Linked DNA regions of Homo sapiens: region 1 is linked to region 2. The links come from fine-mapping of genetic effects on gene expression. Tissue or cell type: whole blood. Region 2 holds a variant in brackets; the other region holds the start of a gene. All regions are shown on one strand. Distances are from middle to middle.

Evidence for each region.
Region 1: it holds the start of FBXO32, and the variant in region 2 is fine-mapped to the expression of FBXO32 in whole blood (INTERVAL, PIP 0.96).

The regions. Positions count from the first base shown.
Region 1 is chr8:123,536,922-123,548,017 of GRCh38, reverse strand. It overlaps FBXO32 (F-box protein 32), which reads left to right and starts at 6,812. Exons shown (of 9, transcript NM_058229.4): 1 at 6,812-7,119. The coding sequence starts at 7,004. RefSeq lists silencers at 6,286-6,575, 6,666-6,775, 6,826-6,915.
Region 2 is chr8:123,514,712-123,522,711 of GRCh38, reverse strand. The region is part of intron 4 of FBXO32 (F-box protein 32); the gene reads left to right. Among named protein-coding and RNA genes, the nearest start is that of FBXO32, 22 kb to the left of the region's middle. The variant G/TG (reference allele first, on the strand shown) is at 3,162.

The DNA of each region.
Region 1 (11,096 bases), 24 kb before region 2:
GTACCTCAGTGAGTCTCTCTTCTGTGAGCCTTAGCTTTCTCATGGGTAAAGGAGGATTGGACTAGGTCACCTCTAAGATCTATTCTGGGTTTTTTTAATTTTGTTTTTGTTTTTAAGACAGAGTCTCGCTATGTTGCCCAGGTTAGTCTCAAACTCCTGGTTGGTCAAGCGATCTTCCTGCCCCAGCCTCTCAAGTCGCTGAGACTACAGGCATGAGCCACTGTACTCAGCTCCTGTTAGATTTTTAAGCAGACCTATGAGTAAGTTAACACATCTGAGCCTCAGTCTCTTCATCTGTAAAATGGGAATAAAAATATCTACCTTGCAAAGTTATATGAACACTGTTGATATAAGTAAACCACCAGACACATATCTAGACAAATTTCAGTCCAAGCTATTTTTGCATATGAAAAATCTCAGAACTAAAATTTGACACTCAGTCATCCAAGATACCGTTTGAAGGATTATTGATAGGCTGGTTTTAACCAATTTCAGGCACTAATATTGTATTGAAAGCTTTGCATCCATAACAAATTTAACCTACAAATCGACGGTAACAAATTTAACATCCTCACTTTAAATTCTTTTTGTAAAGATACACTAGAAATTTGGCCTATTGATGGGAATGTTGTGGTTTCATTCATTTCCTTATATTACACAAAAGTTAGCAGCCTTGTCTTCAAATTCTTTTTGCTATTTATTAAGAGAAAAAAAAGAACTTTCATTAAAACTGAGCAATTGGCCTACAAAGGGAGGAGGATTACAAAATCCCCTTGACCCTCTCTCAGAAAGAGAACCAGGCCCACATTTGAGGAATGCCAAATGATTCTCATTAAAGTAATGAGCATATTTTCAATGACATATGTCTGACCGCCTTTAATTTAGTTGGCAGGACTTGCGGCAGCCAGAGACCCAAAAATAACACACAGCTGGCCATTCCTGCTCACACACCTAACAGACGTATTTCACACTGTTTCAGGGATGCCCCACCCTAGACAGATGGGGTTTAAGGTCATATGCAAATTGTTGTGACATTAAACATACATTCCTTGTGACCACACTAACAGGTTGAATTTAATACACTGAATTCCTCTAGCTCCTCCTTTATAAAATTCCCTCTAACTTCAACAGATTTAGTTGATTTCTGCTCCTGCCCTACCCGACAAGCTAAAGTTATTTTTAACTTACAACTACTGCTGATAAGTATTTTTCACCAAAAAAAAAAAACCCTTTCAGAAAGAGAAACTATGAAAAAACAAAATATCATTGCACTTCAGTGAGAAGTAGTCAGTCCCTCAGCCAAAGCTATAAACGAATGTCATTTTGGTTTAGAAGCAACAAAATGTTTTTTTCACAGTCCTTTCTACAAACAATTTCTGTAAACAGTCTTATGAGGAAGTGGACGGGCTAAATTTATGTTGTGTGTACCTTTGAAAATACAGTCTTCTAGCCAGGCACGGTGGCTCACCCCTGTAATCCCAGCATTTTGGGAGGCTGAGGCGGGTGGATCACGAGGTCAGGCATTCAAGACCAGCCTGGCCAAGATGGTGAAACCCCATCTCTACTAAAAATACAAAAAAAGGCCAGGTGCGGTGGCTCACGCCTGTAATCCCAGCACTTCAGGAGACCAAGGCGGGCGGATCACCTGAGGTCTGAGGTCAGAAGTTCGAGACCAGCCTGGCTAACATGGAGAAACCCCGTCTCTACTAAAAAAAGATAAAATAAAATACACAAATTAGCCAGGCATGGTGGCAGGTGCCTGTAATCCCAGCTACTCGGGAGGCTGAGGCAGGAGAATCGTTTGAACCCAGGAGGCAGAGGATGTAGTGAGCCGAGATCACGCCATCGCACTCCAGCCTGGGGGACAAGAGTGAGACTTCGTCTCAAAAAAATACAAAAAAATAGAAAAAAAATTAGCTGGGTGTGGTGGCAGGCACCTGTAATCCCAGCTACTCGGGAGGCTGAGGCAGAGAATTGCTTGGACTCCGGAGGCGGAAGTTGCAGTGAGCTGAGATCACACCACTGCACTCCAGCCTGGGCAACAGAGTGAGACTCCATCTCAGAAAAAAAAAAAGAAAAGAAAAGAAAAAGAAAATATAATCTTCCACATGTTCTACAGAATAAGGCCCATTTCCATAGTTCAAGTAAGATGCAAGGAATTATTTCATTATACTTGTACCCCAATAGACACATTTGTCCCACATCTGGAAATTTGCTGAGTGAGCTACGCTCCATGCCCTCAAAACTTACAGTTTGATGGGGAAGGTGGACATGGCTTAACCGAGTAAAAGATGGAGGTGTAAACTTTGCATAAAGATAATGACAATAAAGACCCATTGTCATTGGCACTGTTAGAAGTTCTTCATACATATTATCTCAATAAATCCTCAAAACACCCTTTGAGGTAGGTACTATCATTATTTCCATTTTACAAATAAAGGAAGTATGGTACAGAGATGTTAAGTAACTTGCCCAAGATCACACAGCTTTTTAGGTGGGGAATGTGATTTGAACCCAGTGAGTCTGGCTCTAGTCAGGGTTAGAGATAAGCCTGGGTACCAGTTGGAGTCCCACCACATTTGCTAGGTGATCTCACGCAGGCTATTCAACTTTTCTGAGCTGAAGTTTCCTCATCTATAAAATGGGAATAGCAATTCCTAGCCCACAGGTTTATGAGGAGTATGTAACAGGATTGTGTTTGTGAAGTGACTGGCACACTGTCCTCAGCATGGCAGGCATCTATCATCAATGGAATAGGACATTAAAACATATTTTTTCTAAGATACCACCTTTTGACTACCTTCCCCATCTGCCTCACTAACCCATAAAGCATCACTATTGGAGAATGCAGCTATACGAGGTAGGACTGGGGGCTGCCAACCCTCCCTTTGCTCCACCCTGCTATGTCCCTAGAAGTAATAAAATGTCAACAGGTAAAGACATGGGAATAACAGCCTTCCAGGTCAGTTCAACAACATTTGTTGATTTTTTTTTTTTTTTTTTTGAGAAGGAATCTCACTCTTATCACCCAGGCTGGAGTGCAGTGGCGCGATCTCAGCTCACTGCAACCTCCACCTCCCGGGTTCCAGCGATTCTCCTGCCCCAGCCTCCTGAGTAGTTGGGATTACAGGCACCCACCACCACGCCTGGCTAAATTTTATATTTTTAGTAGAGATGGCGTTTCACCATGTTGGCCAGGCTAGTCTCAAACTCCTGACCTCAGGTGATCCACCTGCCTCAGCCTCCCAAAGTGCTGAGATTACAGGTGTGAGCCACCGCGTTGGGCCCATTTGTTGATTTGTTGATGTAAATGTACCGTGTACCAAGAACCTTATTAGACACTGTGGCACTAAACTCCTAAGACACAGCCCTGCCATCAAGGAGCTCACAGTCCTAGACAGGAGAAGAAAACACAAAAAATCAAACACCCAGTATGTAATCTGGGTAATGTGTTATACAAAACAGTGCAGGAAAGGCAGTAGCTAAGTGTCTAAGCAATGAAACACACAGCCATGGTACATACATCATGTACACTGCACACACCATTAGGCTACATGGGGTCCTGACCAGTCTGTGCTGTGCCTTGTGAAATTCTCTGAGTATCTATCTGTCTCTATGTCTTCAGCCTGAAGCTATAACATTGATATTTTGCTTTTGGTGATTCTCAAATGCTCAGCTATGATAGGGCTTACAATCACAGAGTCTTTACAAAGTTCAAGCCCCCATCTGATTTGAAGGTAACTGTTCTGGACATAGCCTAGCAAGTTCTTTATCTTGAGGGGTCCAGCATTACAAAACTTCCCAGTAGAAACCATGTTTAAATAAGTGTCAGCTGAGCATGGTGGCTCATGCCTGTACTCCTAGTAGTTTGGGAGGCCAAGGCGGGAGGATCACTTGAGGCCAGAGTTTGAGACCAGCCCGAGCAACATAGCAAGACCCCATCTCTCCAAAAAAAAAATGTTTTAATCAACCAGGCATGGTGGTGCACGCCTGTTGTCTTAGCTGCTCAGGAGGCTGAGGCAGGAGAATCACTTGAGCTCAAGAGTTCAAGGCTGCAGTGAGCCATGATTGCACCGGTACACTCTAGCCTGGGTGATAGAGCAAGACTCTGTTTCAAAAAAAAAAAAGAAGTCTCAAATTAGATTTTTTTATGGTAAGAGAAATCTGAAATAGTCAATCACACTTCAGAAGAAGCCTGCATTAAGATATGATAGCAACAATTCTGTTTGTTTGTTTTAAGGAACAGAAAGCGGAAGGACTAGAGACAAACACTGAGGCTTCCTAAGATTAGTTATTAGACAAAAAGACAAGGACAAAAATAATTGTAATTTCCTATTTGTGCTTGAATTTTAGAAGTTAAAGAAACTTTCACCAACTTTGAGCCACTCAACCCTTTATAGTAGTCAGCTATCGACACAATAATGCTGTGTAACAGTAAATCACAAAAATCTCAGTGGCATCAACAAGACACATTTATTTCTTGCTAACACATCTGTGAGGTCAACGGGAGTGTCTGCTCCATGTGTCACATCCTGGGACACACGGATGTCACTCAAACCACTCCAGGAGCAGTGGCTACACAGGGTATGCTCTTTTCATGGAGCAGGTGAACACACAAAACATCAAGACCAACCAGGCAAGTACATACATCAGATCCTCTGCTCACATCACATCCATCAGCATCCCCTTGGCTAAAGCCAGTCATATGGCCAAGCCCATTGTCAAGAATTAGAAAAATACACATCACCAAAAAGTGTGGGCACATGACGCTACTGGAAAGGAGGGAAGAATGGGTACTAATAATTCAATCTACCACAGCTTTTAAACCATCCTGAAAGGTAGGCATTATTGGCTCCATTTTTTCTTGACAGTTAAGTAAATGGGGCCCTAAGAGTTTAAGTCATTCATCCAAGGGAGGACAGGTAGTATGCTGCTCCAGCAGAATTAGAATTCAAAACTTCTACCTTCTGGCCCTCTGTGGTCTCTACAGGTATGTAGCCAGCTTACTAATACATAACTAACCCACATTGTTCATAATCACATCCCAGGCGGGCATGGTGGCTCACGCCTGTAATCCCAACACTTTGGGAGGCCAAGGAAGGAGGATCACTTGAGCCCAGGAGTTTAAGACTAGCCTGGGCAAGATAGCAAAACCCTATCTCTACAAAAAATATAAAAAATTAGCCTGGTGCAGTGGTGAGTGCCTGTAGTCTCAGCTACTGGAGACTGGGGCCGAGGTGGGAGGATGGCTTGAGCTGGGGAGGCTGAGGCTACAGTGAGCCATGATCACTCACTCTAGCCTGAGTGACACAATGAGACCCTGTCTCAAAAATAATAATAATAATAATCACATCCCTTAATTATGCAGATACCAATTCCCTCCAACAGAGACCAGACCCAACACTGCCTCATTTGTTAGCACCATCACAGTGTTTAACATTTGTTTGGGACTTCTTCAATGTTTTTACAAGCTTTTTTTTTACTATTACTACACTAATAAATTATTTACGGTGGGAAATCTAAATCAGAAAGCTCTGGCTTCTTGAAAACAAACTTTATTAAAAACGTCTTCCCAGTCCAACATGTAGCCTCATAGGGCACACACAATTTCTTTGCCTGAGCCTTAAAGATTACACCGAGTCAGTGGACTAGATGATATTGATGGCTGCAGAGAAAGAAGAATGGAAGAATGAAGTTTGAAGCTAATGCTTGAGTATGGGATTTTTACTCTGCTGCTGCTGTCCTGTGCAAACTAATTGCCAAATAGACCAGGCTGTAAAGCATCATAACTAGAGGTGATGAAGGGCAAGAAGCCACCCTCATGCCAGCAGCCTCCCGTATCCATTCACTTATTCACACAAATAGTTGTTGAAGGCCTGCACTGGGCCTGGCAGGGTGCAGGGGCTGAAATGCCTCCGGAACAAGACAGACCAGCTCTCATGGAGTTCCCACTGCAGACAGGGGTAGATTGTTGTAACAACAGCAAAAAGTAAAAGCAAACAGGGTAGTTTCAGATTGTACTGTAGCATTGGCCCTGGGTACATCATTTAACCCGTCTCTTAGAGGGTTCGGGTAGGATAGGGGCGCTGTTCTTTTTCTCCACTCCCAACCTGCGGGAGCCAGATACCTCCCAGGGCTTCCTCTCCTTCCCCTCCTTTGCTGCCCCAGGGGCAGGTCTGAAGGAGGACTGGTTAGTGACAGCTAAGGGGCCCGGAGGGCTGGGAGGCTGTCCCTCCTCCCCGCTCCAACCCCCGCGCGCTAGGGCGGGGTTGGGGCAGTGAGCGAGGTCAGGAGGCTGCGCCCCCTACTCCCCGCCCGGCGGGCGCGGTGCCGGCCCCAGCTCTGCGGACGGCCCGGGAGGCTGATCTGGCTGCGGAGGTCGATCCTGATAGCTCGGGGGCAGGAGGGGGGCTGGCCCTGCTCCTCACGCCCACCCCGCAGGGACCCAGACGCCCCTCCGGCCCCCTCCCTGCACCCCGTCAGCCCGGGAGCTGCAGGAGACCGGGGCGCATCTTTCCAAGCGCCGGGCCTCGCTCTGGGACAACGGTGTCCTGGGGGCGGGGAGGGCGCGCGGAGGTGCCAGGGGCGGCGGGGTACCCGGCCCGGCAGCACCGCTTCAAGTTTCCACCGGCGCGGTTGTGCAACCGGGAGGGGAGCGTGAGCCGCAGGCGCCTCGGAAAACAAGCCGAGCCCATAAACAAAGCCACGTGGCCTCCGGGCCGGGGGGCCGGGCTAAGAGCGGGCGGCTCTTCCGGCAACAAAGAGCTGCGGCCGGCTGCGGGGATAAATACTGCGGCAGCTACTGCCGCGCAGCACTCCCGGAGCCTGCAACGCTTGAGATCCTCTCCGCGCCCGCCACCCCGCAGGGTGCCCCGCGCCGTTCCCGCCGCCCCGCCGCCCCCGTCGCGGGCCCCTGCACCCCGAGCATCCGCCCCGGGTGGCACGTCCCCGAGCCCACCAGGCCGGCCCCGTCTCCCCATCCGTCTAGTCCGCTCGCGGTGCCATGCCATTCCTCGGGCAGGACTGGCGGTCCCCCGGGCAGAACTGGGTGAAGACGGCCGACGGCTGGAAGCGCTTCCTGGATGAGAAGAGCGGCAGTTTCGTGAGCGACCTCAGCAGGTGAGGGGACCCGCTACCAACTTCCAGCCCCCGCGAAACTGACCCGGGCTGGTCTGGGGGGCGCAGGGACGGCGAATGAGGGGCAGGCAGGGCTGGAGCGGGCTGAGGAGGGAGACCCTGACCCGGAGGGTGGGACTACGGGGCCCGATTTCTGCAGAGGTCTTCGGACCACCGGAGACAGGGAATTCGGTTTCTCTTATTGTTCAAGGTCAGTGTCTCCAAGTGGACACGACTCCTTACAGAACACCTGGTCCCTCTGAGAGTCTGATGACATTCGCGGATCGTGTCCCCAAACGTTCGCTCAAACTTAATCACACAGCTTTAGTGGTCCCTGCTTTAAGGACACCGGAGTCGCGCACTTTGCCCATGTGGGGGCGCGGGCGGGTGGGCTGAGCCCCTTCACCGCGGGGTGGCCCGGCTCCCAGCGCCCAAGCGCTGTGGACGCGACAGGTGACGGGATCCGACGAAGGTCCCGCCTGGAGCGCTTCCAGGCCCTGCCCAGGCACGGGCAACCACGAAGTGGCCGGGAGGATGAGTAACCAGGAAGGGACGGCCAGATGGTCCCTGGGGCAGCCGCTTACTGGGCGGACTTGCGAGCGGTGGAGGCTTGGGGCTGCAGAGGTGCAAAGGAGGGAAGGGGGCAGGGGATGAATCCCACAAGAGCTCTGCTTCTGGGAGGACAGGGCTCTTGCACCTGTTTCCTCGGTGGCCCTCTCGGTCGGTCTGCTTTGTATAGAGTGCACTCCGTTTCCAGGGGTGCCTGTCAGCTGCGAAAAGCCTGCCTGGCCCCGGTGAGCCTCTGGATTCGAGGCCTCACCTGAGCTCTGTGGTCTGGCGGGAAACCTGAGGTCCGCTGCGCTCCCTGCTCAGCTTGGCTAACGATGCCAGCGCCGGCTAGTACGCAAGGTAGCCTGGAATTTCTCAGCCCCTGACCTCGACAGTTGACTTTCAGAGACTCTCAGCATTTAGCCCGGTGAGCGGGGGCGATGAAAGTGATTCCAGAATGGACTGGTGCAGCCAGAGTCACCCTTGGGAGCCTTTTCCTGCCACCTTTGGTTAAAACCATGGGCCCCTGCACCCTTAAATTGACTTCAATGGAGAATTCTGTTTCTGGGCCAGGTTCCCGCTTACTGAGATTTACCAGTCGTTGCTTGGATGAAGCATTGGCAATAAATTTTGAGAAAACTATCAAGAAAATGTGGTTATTTTGGCAACTTGAACTCCCGTGCCTCCCATTTGTTTGTGATTTGTAATGCATCAAATTCCCATTGTCTCACAATGTAAAGAAAGACATTATTTAATTCTGGGGGTCTGTCCGGAGAGACTTGAGCGTATTAACCACCAGCATATAACCATTTACGTTGGAGTTACTTGGAGGCTGTCCCAGGGGAGTTTAGGGACCACCATAAGGAAATCTTATTTACGTAAAATCAAGTAATTTATTTACGGGAAAGTAAGACCAACTGCTATTGACAGACTATGTCTTTTATCGACTGGAGTTACCAATTATGCCTAAATTATTCTCCCTCAACAAAATGGGAACCTTCCTTCCTTCCTCCTTGTTCCTAAGGACAATGATCTAATATGTTGGTACTTTATTTCTGTATACAAGTTCAGGTTCTTTCTAGAAAAGTGCCGAAAGGGTCTGAAGAGTCATGTTAGAGCTGCTCACCCAAATATAATTGCAGGATGCTCCTCAGTGGAGAACAGATGATTGAGTTCAGCAGAAGATTTAAAATGTAGGGTCGTATTAATACTTACCCTACTCGGGAGGCTGAGGTGGGAGGATGGCTTGTGCTCAGAAGTTCAAGGCTGCAGCGAGTCATGACTGTGCCACTGCGCTCCAGCCTGGGCCACAGAGCGAGACCCTGTCTCTAAAAATAAATAAAAATTTAAAATTTGTTTTAAAATACCCTATACCGGCATCAGGAGAGAAACTGGTGTCACTCTCCTTTAGAAATAGTGGTATCTCTGTCTTCACAGTATGGAAGACCTGAAGATGGTCTTAACTTACCACAAAAGTTTAGACTGGGCTGGAATCAGGTGGTTTCCTGCACAGCCCCCCTCCCGTGTCCTGTTCATGAGCCTCTTTTTCTTCCCATTTCACACCTGAGCTGGAGCTGTCACATCCATCATCATTACCGCAAATAGTCATTGATATACTGACCACCTGTGGTCCTTTGAGTCAGCGTTTAGGAATCATTTGGTAGCCTCCTAGCAAAGCAGCTGGCTGTTTGTTTGCAGGGTATTTTTTTTTCCAGCAACTGTAAACAATCCCTTCCCTGCTTAGCATGAGAAGCCTGCAACTTCTTAAAAGCAGTTGGCCTTCTGTGGTCTGGGTTTGTCATCTCAAATATCCTCACTGTTTTTGGTCTTGGTGATGTTTCCCCGTGATGTCAGGTTTGGACTGCGTGCCTGCCTGCACAGGTGAAGCTGAATGCCTCTCCTGTTATGAGAAAACAAAAGGCAGGCCCTTAAGCGGGGAGGGACCGTGAAACAGAGAACTACAGAGACATGGTAGACTGACTTCTCTAATTCCACAGACCATTCTGCAAACGGCCCAAACAAGAGCCCGGGATGAAGGATGCATTTGGTGGTTTTCAGCCTGGGGTTATTGTTTCGTGTTGACCAAGTCTTGTCCACACAGCACACCTATTCTGGACTCAGCTGGCCATCTTCTCTGTGGTCTAGGACTCCAACCTTCTCCAGTGTAGAATGTTACAAATCCAGTCCCAGCCATGTGTCCAGGAGTGAGATCATGGGAGGATTTAAGATAAGCTTAAAGCAGGACCCCTTCTCAAAAATGTTGAAATTATATAAAATAGAAGGGGAATGGCAAGTGTTAAATATGCTGGGGCAGATTTAAAATGCAAGGAAAGAGCTTGGCGTGAATTGGGATGATCCAAGAATGCTTCAAGGAAGTGGTGGTTCAGGCACCCGCACAGCCTTCCTCAGCAACCACCCCCTCACCGCCCACCCCCAGGATGAGTAACCTAAGCTGTCTGAGCCTCTGCCACTCTTTTCTAAGCCTACACTTCTGTCATTGAAGACTGACTCAAATGTTACTTTACTGTATGGCTGAGGCTGGACCCGGAAGCAGGAAGTTTACCTTGGTGACTGGATAAAAATAATAGTTAAGATTTTATGAGTGCTTACTGTGTGCAAGGCACTGTTCTATGAGCGTTATACACTAGGCTGTTTGTTTCACCAGAGCATTCCGGGTGCTAGCCTTGTGAGTGTGGCGATCTAGAAATGCGTCAGTAAATTGGTGTAGAAATCTCTACTGGCTTTAATCAGGCTATATAACTACAATTAAACCTCTGGGGGCACGTCACAGCTTTCTTAAATGGTTTTTATTGCAAATGAAATGAGAAATAGGGCTTTATTTTTTTTTTCATTCCCTTCTTTATCTGCTGCCAAAACAGACTTATTTATGGTCTGATTTTGAATTTTTTCTACATTTTTAAAAAGTTGCCTTAAAGTATCTTGGTATGTGGTAATGTGGGGCTGTGCAGTGGATCTTTTTCTTATTCTAGGCCTGTGCCTATAAAAATCAAGATTAGTAAATAGTGACTACAAAATAGCGACTTGCTGGCTATTATTGAATTTAGTGAAGAAAGCAGCCTCGTTGAGATGGTTTTGCTTATTAAAAAAAAAAAAATCCTGTGCTCCAATTCCTAAATGGTGGTGGTTTTTCTTGTTAAAAATTTCAGTTGTAATTTTCCATTGGCTTTGCATTTTCTTGAAAAGGACACGATTGAACTCTCAAAATAGCCTCTAACTGAATATATTATTGCTTAAAAGAAAACTTATAAGTAGGCAACACAAATAAACCCCATAGCCCTTCTTTCCAGGCCCTTCCTCCGGAATCTAAAACCTAATACCAAGTGAAAATATAGGGTTTCTCTTTGGTTAAAACTTTTCTACATTCTACGGTGAGAGAACATCATCAATTATGTAAAATTCTTTCTAAACTA
Region 2 (8,000 bases):
TGGGAAGGAACAAAAGTGAAGGGGAATGATTGTGGGTCAGGGGCCAATGGCGATGTGACATTCAGCCTATAGAACCATAGGGCAGAGGTGACAGTTGCTGGAATAGATGGGAGCTCAGTTTAAGGAAGATCGCCAAGCCAGACATCGCTGTTAGATGGATGTAATGGGGAATAAACTGCCATTGTCAACTCAAAAGTAACCAGGGCCAGGTGTGGGGGCTCACACCTGTAATCCCAATACTTTGGGAGGCCGAGGCAGGTGGATTACTTGAGGTGAGGAGTTTGAGACCAGCCTAGCCAACATGGTGAAACACCGTCTCTCTTAAAAATACAAAAATCAGCCGGACATGGTGGCAGGCACTTGTAGTCCCAGCTACTCAGAAGGCTGAGGCAGGAGAATCATTTGAACCCAAAAGGCAGAGGTTGCAGTGAGCCAGCTCACACTACTGCACTCCAGCCTGGGCAGCAGAGTGAGACTCCATCTCAAAAAAAAAAAAAAAAAAAAAAGTAACCAGGATGGGTAAAAGATGAAGAGGCAAGTCTCTCTCTGCTGAGAATACAATTAATGCATGTAAACTTGGCTCTCCTTATTATTTTAACTCCCTCTGTTAAAAGAGAGCTGTTTCACTTGCAAATAATATTTATCCAATCTTGACATGCCTGCAGATTATTAATGTCGCTGAAATTTTTTTCTCTTTCAACCTGTCAGTGTTCAAGCTCAAAGTCAGAACAAAACTTTCCAGGTTTTTTATCTGTGTTATTCATTGAGTAAATAAGGGTCTTGGAAGTACCCAGCACTCAGAGCAGAGAGAGACACTGCCTAGTCTAACTAAAGGTTTATTATAGAAGACGCAACCTTCCTATAGATGGGCACCCAACTTGGGTATTGAGCATGTGAGGCATGGCAAGGCTGCTTGAGGCTGGGACTCGTTTCTGCCTTTGATAACTCTGGCAGATTTTCCAGTCAGACACATACTTCATACTGTAACACCCCACTGTTATACGAGATAAGGAATTTGGGGATAAATTGTGTTCTCATTCTTAACAATTCTGTATGAGAATGATAGAGCATGCTTAGGCAGCAGCCTTGTGGTTTTGTCCTTTTAAACTAACAGGTAGAGGAAGCTGCTATTTTTGTTGATGCTTCTGAAAGCCCAAGTGTTTACTGTCCCTCCAGATCTCAGGCTGCTTGCCCTTCTGGAAAGTGTTTGAGATATGTTTGCATTATAAATAATTTACTCCTAGGCCCATGCCACTCCTGGGGCATCAGTCTGGAACTAGTCTCCATATAGATATCAGCCTGACCAGCCAGATGGTCCACCATTGACCTTGATGTGTCATTTGGCCATCATGAGCCACCTCATCTATAGCAGGAGGAAATTCGGGTAAACTGTTTCCTGAGTCCCTTCCAGCTACAACACTCTTTGATTCAAAAAGACAAATGTATGTTTTAAAAAACACTATTTGTTGAGTGCTTACCATGTGCCAAGCTGGGGGTAGAGTGGGAAACAGGACAACACTTGCTGTCTTGAGGGTTCCATCCTAATTAGCCTATCAGCAAGTAAGTGAACAAGACCAATTCAGATATGCATAAATGCAACAATGAAGAACAATGAAACCATAGTAAGGTGAAGATGGCAACAGGGAGGTTTTTGCATAAGATGGCCAGGGAAGGGCCCTCTGAGCCCGGGGCAGGCCACGTTTGAACTGAGACCTGAGGGATGGGATGGAGCCGAGCATGTAAAGATGTGGCAGAGGCAAAGGCCCAGAGGTGAGAATAAGCTTGGCCTATTCGAGAGACGAATAACCTGTGTAGCCGGAGCAGAGTGAATTTGTGCAAAACTAGGCTGGAAAAGGGGTAGAAACCAGATCAGGGAGAACCTTGCCAGTCATGGTAAGGAGCTTGAGTTTTTTCCTAAGCGCAAGGAGAAGCCATTTGAGGATTTTAAGCAAAGAAGTAACGTGAACTGATGGATTTTTAAAACTATGAATGCTATGCTAAAATAAACTGTAGGGAAGAAGACGTAAGAAGCCTGCTCTTGATACGAGAGCAGTGAGATAAGAGGGAAATCTCTCTTCTGCCCATTCGTCTTGCACACACCACTTCAAACTTTGGTTGATATCCGCTCTGAGATTTGCTATACGATATTGCTTGCAACTAGATTTGTCTCCTATTCGTTGCCTCCAGAACTAGCATGAGCCAAAGCTGAAGGGCAGGATGTGGTTTCAGCATGCGGTGACCACCATCCCTCCCTCCAGTAGCTCAGAGCCATTCCTGGTACTGCACGGCTCGTCACTGCAGATCATGCCGGATGCCCAGAGTGCCCACACGATAATGACACCACGGAATTCCAGAGGAGCCGAGAAGCCTCCTCCTCCTTCCCCTTCCCTCCCCCTGCCTCTCTTTAAACATAGCCACAAATTACTAGCACCTGGGCTAAAATTTGCCCAGTCAAAAACAAGCAGCCACTTCCAAACAAGACATTTTCCTCTGTTCTTTTTTTCTCTTGTGGCTAGGGGCAAAGAATCCAATTGGCTAAGTCATCCTGGTACACAGATTGCTAGATACAAACCTACTTTCCTAGGCACGCAGCTCTCTTAACACAAATAAAATCGATAAATTTGGGCTGTGCGCGATGGCTTACGCCTGTAATCCCAACACTTTGGGAGGCCAAAGCAGGCAGATCACCTGAGGTCAGGAGCTCAGGACCAACCTGGCCAACATGGTGAAACTCGATCTCTACTAAAAATACAAAAATTATCCAGGTGTGGTGGCGGGTGCCTGTAATCCCAGCTACTCAGAAGGCTGAGGCAGGAGAATCATTTCAACCTGGGAGGTGGAGGTTGCAATGAGCCGAAATCACGCCATTACACTCCAGCCTGGGCAACAGAGCAAGACTCTGTCTCAAAAATTAAAAAATTTAAAAATCGGTAAATTCTGCTCTCTTCACTACTAGTTCCATACATCACTACCTAGTAGTAGCTCTGGGCCTATAGAGTGATGCTGATGTGGAAAGTAGACTCTGTGGTTTACCCAAAGCAGTTGCCTCATCCTAAATGTGCTGGTAGCACTTTCTGAGCATTACAGTGCCCTTAATATTAAAAGTTGTTTACCAGTCACAACATATTATTATATAAAATTTCTTTTTTTTTTTTTTTTTT[G/TG]AGATGGAGTCTTGCTCTGTCGCCCAGGCTGGAGTGCAGTGGTGTGATCTCAGCTCACTGCAAGCTCTGCCTCCCGGGTTCACGCCATTCTCCTGCCTCAGCCTCCTGAGTAGCTGGGACTACAGGCACCCGCCACCGCATCCGGCTAATTTTTTGTATTTTTAGTAGAGATGGGGTTTCACCATTAGCCAGGATGGTCTCGATCTCCTCACCTCGTGATCCGCCTGCCTCAGTCTCCCCAAGTGCTGGGATTACAGGCGTGAGCCGCCACGCCCAGCCCAATATTATATAAAATTTTCTAGACTCTGTTTCCCCAGAACATAACAATAAATGGTATTGCTCCCATTTTGGAGTAAAATTTGGCCCTCCATGCAAATTGATTGGCCTTGACAAACTGAAGTCCTGAAACTGTCAGAATATATGTTCTGCCAGGCACAGTGGCTCATGCCTGTAATCCCAGCACTTTGCGAGGCTGAAACACGAGGATCGCTTGATCCCACAAGTTCGAGGCCAGCCTGGGTAACTAGGAAGACCCTGTCTCTACAAATAGAAATAAAAAAAATTAGCCAGGCATAGTGCTGTGCCCCTGTGGTCCCAGCTACTTGGGAGGCTGAGGTGGGAAGATAGCTTGAGCCTCGGAGGTAAAGGCTACAGTGAGCCATGACTGTGCCACTGCACTCCAGCCTAGGTGACAGAGTGAGACTTTGTCTCAACAAAAAAAAAAGAAAATGTGTTCTCTGTTAGACATATCTGGGCTCAAGTCCTGGCTCCAGCATTTGCTACTGCTGGTATGGCTTTAGGTGAGTACTTCTCTGAGCCTCAATATCCTCAATGGTTAAATGGAGAAGCTATCTCACTGGGTTGCTGTAAAAGATAAACAAGATTACAAATGTATAGTGCTTAGCTGCAGTTGCTGACACATAGTAAGCACCCCATTGTTATTGTTATTGTTAGCAAAATAAGACTCCATGGTAGAAAAACTATGCAAGTCATAAAATGTATCAGCATTAACTTTTATCAACAGATAGGGTGCTATTAAATGTATCACCAACATAGTAAAATGACAGAAAGGAATATTACAGTGTGAAAGCATTTATTTATTTGTTTGACAACAGCTACAATTGAAATACAGCAATTCTGAAGGTCTTTAAATGGGTTGCACTTTGCCCTGTTAACTCACTATTTCCTGATTGGCAATAATTTTACTTGGTAATGCTCTGTATTATGGTAAAAGCTAACAATAATAATTTATCGAGTATATTCTTTGTAGCAGGCACAGTTATGAGTGCTATGTGAATACATTTAATCTTCACAGCAACTTTGAAGTAGGTACTATTACTGTGCATATTTTGAAGATGGGAAAACTGAGGCAGACAGTTTGCCTCTGGAGCCCTCACTCTTAAACTCTTATGATATATACCAGAAACTGTGACATAGCCCAGGTGCCAAATCTGGCCCTCCACCTGCTTTTGTAAATAAAGTTTTATTGGAATACACCCATGCCCACTCATTTACACATTGTCTATAGCCATTTCGGTGCTATAGCTTCAGGGTGGAGTAGTTGCTACAGAGACCACGTGGCCCACAAACCTTAAAACACCTACTGTTTGGCACTTTGCAGAAAAAGTTTGCTAACCCCTGATGTCAACTTTAAACTTCACAAAAAGACTGGAGTTTAAAGGGAAAGAAATAATATCTTATAATAAAAATGCCTTATGTTTGGTATTTACTGTGGATTTGTACATATTTATCTTACTTAATTCTCATAGCAATCCTGTGAAGTAAGTAGTCTTTTTATTTCCATTTTAGAAATGAAGAATCAGGAGTTCAGAGGGATTAAATGACTTACACTCTAGGCTGAAGAGCAAACTCCATGAGTGTAGGGATCATGTGTCTTCATCATCATGTCCCTGTCACCTACCACGATGCTAGCACAGGGTGGACACTCAGAAAATACTTGCTAAATGAATGACAGTTACAAAGGTCACCCAGCTAGAGAATCCAGGTCTTCTCCTCTTCCAGGGTTCTTTCTCCTGACTCCACAGCTGTCTGACAGTTAAAAAAAAAAAAAAAGGTAGGGGGGACTTTCCCTTGAGATAGGATGAAGCACAGAATGGTTAACATGTCGTTATGCTGTCAGTTGACAAATTTTTGCTGCTATATTCCTCCTTCTCCTTAGAGAAGATAATCAGACCAAAGACAGTTCGTTTCTCCTCCAGTGCACAGTCATAGTGTTGAGAGTTTACTTGTCCTTGTGATTGGTGCATATTTTGACAAGATTAAAACTGACACCCTCATGAGATGGTAGTCACATGGAATCTGGGTTTTGGATGGATTTCAGGCAGAGCTCTGGCTGCCTTCCTCCCAACCCCTTGCCCCACCTCCTACCCAGTGATGAGTCACAGTGCACAGCTGACTGCCCTTCAAAAGCCGACCCGAGGCTTTTGTTTTCTTTCATCTGCTTCATGTTGGTCATGTGAGGATCAGGGTATTAATAGACCATCATCTTGGCCTTCCGAATCTTGCTGTTGGTCAGGGAGGTAAATGAAAGGTTTGGCCAGTCCCTTTGTGCCATTTTCACTCCTCTCTTGACTGTCACGTGCTGGTTGGTGGCAAAGCTAAACCACAGCATTCGGTGTGGTCACCGCCCATGGCCATGGTCTCTACTGGTGTTTTGATTTCCCGCCTCTTTCAGCAGACACTCGGTGAGCTCCTGACTTCCAACTAGATCACCAGTACTAATTGCAACAAACCACCTCCTCCTCCCAGTCAGCTAGCCTCATCTCTCCCTGCATGTGGAAAAGATACAGAAGCCAGGGAGAAAAAGGAGTTTGGTTTGGGGGTGGCTTTTTTTAATATGTAAAGTAAAATTACATTCAGGAAATTAAAAGTCTGTGTGTGGTTTAACAGGCTCCTAAAGAGCTCCACGGGGACAAACATGTTATGCAAATGCCATGGAAGCAGAGGTGCTCTGAATTGCCTAGGCCGTTGATCCAAAAGTTTCCATTCTCCTCTGCAACCCAATCTTTAAAATTTCATTTTGCTTCTTCCCTCAGCCTTGATTCCAGCACCCACCACAGTGTCATGCTCAGTGTTTATTGATCTGAAATGAAGCTGGGCTGAGGCCTGGCCAGGAGATGAAACTCTCTTAGAAAGTTTCCTAGGAGCGGAGATTCTAGCTTCAGTGTAAAGGAGGGGTCTCGGTTCTCTGTGTCTAGTCTACTGAGTCTCAGGCTAGTTATTACCACAATTACTTTTGCACCAGCCTAATAGTTTTCTCTGGGGGCCTGGTGGGTTCTCGTGAAGTTAATTACTTTCACTTTATATCAACCTCTTTTGTTTGTTAACTCTTTGAAAGCATGAAGTGTGATATTTTCCTGTGTTGAGAAGGACTCTGCTGAGTCCTCACTAGTTGTGGAGTGGCTCATAAGGTGGGTCTCTTGAGCCTCGCTTTGCTCATCTGTTAAGTGGATTAAACTAGATGGTCTCTTAAGATTCCTTCCAGTCTAAAGTTTCATTTTTCAACAATAGGATCTTTGTTTTTTATTTTTTATTTTTTAAGATGGAGTCTTGCTCTGTTGCCCAGGCGAGAGTTCAATGGCACGATCTCGGCTCACTGCAACCTCTGCCTCCTGGCTTCAAGCAATTCTCCTGCCTCAGCCTCCTGAGTAGCTGGGAGCACAGGCATGTGCCACCATGCCCGGCTAATTTTTTGTACTTTTAGTAGAGATGGAGTTTCACATGTTGGCCAGGCTGGTCTTGAACTCTTGACCTCGTGATCTACCTGCCTTGGCCTCCCAAAGTGCTGGGATTACACGCATGAGCCACCGCACCTGGCCTTTATTTGTTTTTTAATCTTGCCATGTCAGTAAAGAATTTTGCTATAGAAGGTAAAAAAGATTGGACTAAGTACGCACTAACTTCAGTTATTATCTTCATTTATTTTTGTCTGGCAATTATGGGGTTGGTAGGAATGGGACATACTTTTTCAACAAACAAACTGGCGGGGCGCGGTGGCTCATGCCTGTAATCCCAGCATTTTGGGAAGCCAAGGCAGGTGGATCACCTGAGGTCAGGAGTTCGAGAGCAGCCTGGCCAACGTGGCAAAACCCTGTCTCCAATAAAAATACAAAAAAAAAAAAAAACTGTTAGCCAGGCGTAGTGGCACATGCCTGTAATCCCAGCTACTCAGGAGGCTGAGGCAGGAGAATCACTTGAACCTGGGAGGCGGAGGTTGCAGTAAGCTGAGATTGCACCATTGCACTCCAGCCTGGGCAACAGAGCAAGATGCCGTCTCAAAAAACAAAACAAAGAAAACCCTTTATTTAGCACCTAATTAGTGCCAGGTACTTGCTGAGGGCTTTATGTGCATTCTCCTATTATCACTCACAACAACCTTGTATTATTGACTCTACCTTGTATTAAAGGTATTAAATACTCAACCTTGTATTAAAGACTCTAAATATTATTAGTATAGATGAACAAACTGGGTGGGGCACCAAGAAATATAGTAACTTGCCCATCATCACGGAGCTAATACATGTTCAAATCAAGACCTGAATCTAAGGCCAAGAGCTACAAGGATCCAAGTTTTTAGCCACAGTGACATCATATAAAATACATCCCTGAATTTCTCTCTCTTCCTGTGATTGGCGTCTTTCTACAGAAATGTAAGTGCAGTGAAAGAGTCTAATTAATAGACATGTTTATTGAACACTGCAGAAGCAGGAGGTATCAGGATAAGACTCTCCACTTCCATGGAAAAAGTGCACATGGCTGCTGAAGATGGGCTTTAGGTGCCTTGAGAGCAGTCAGTGCCAATAAGGAAGAAGTTCAAGC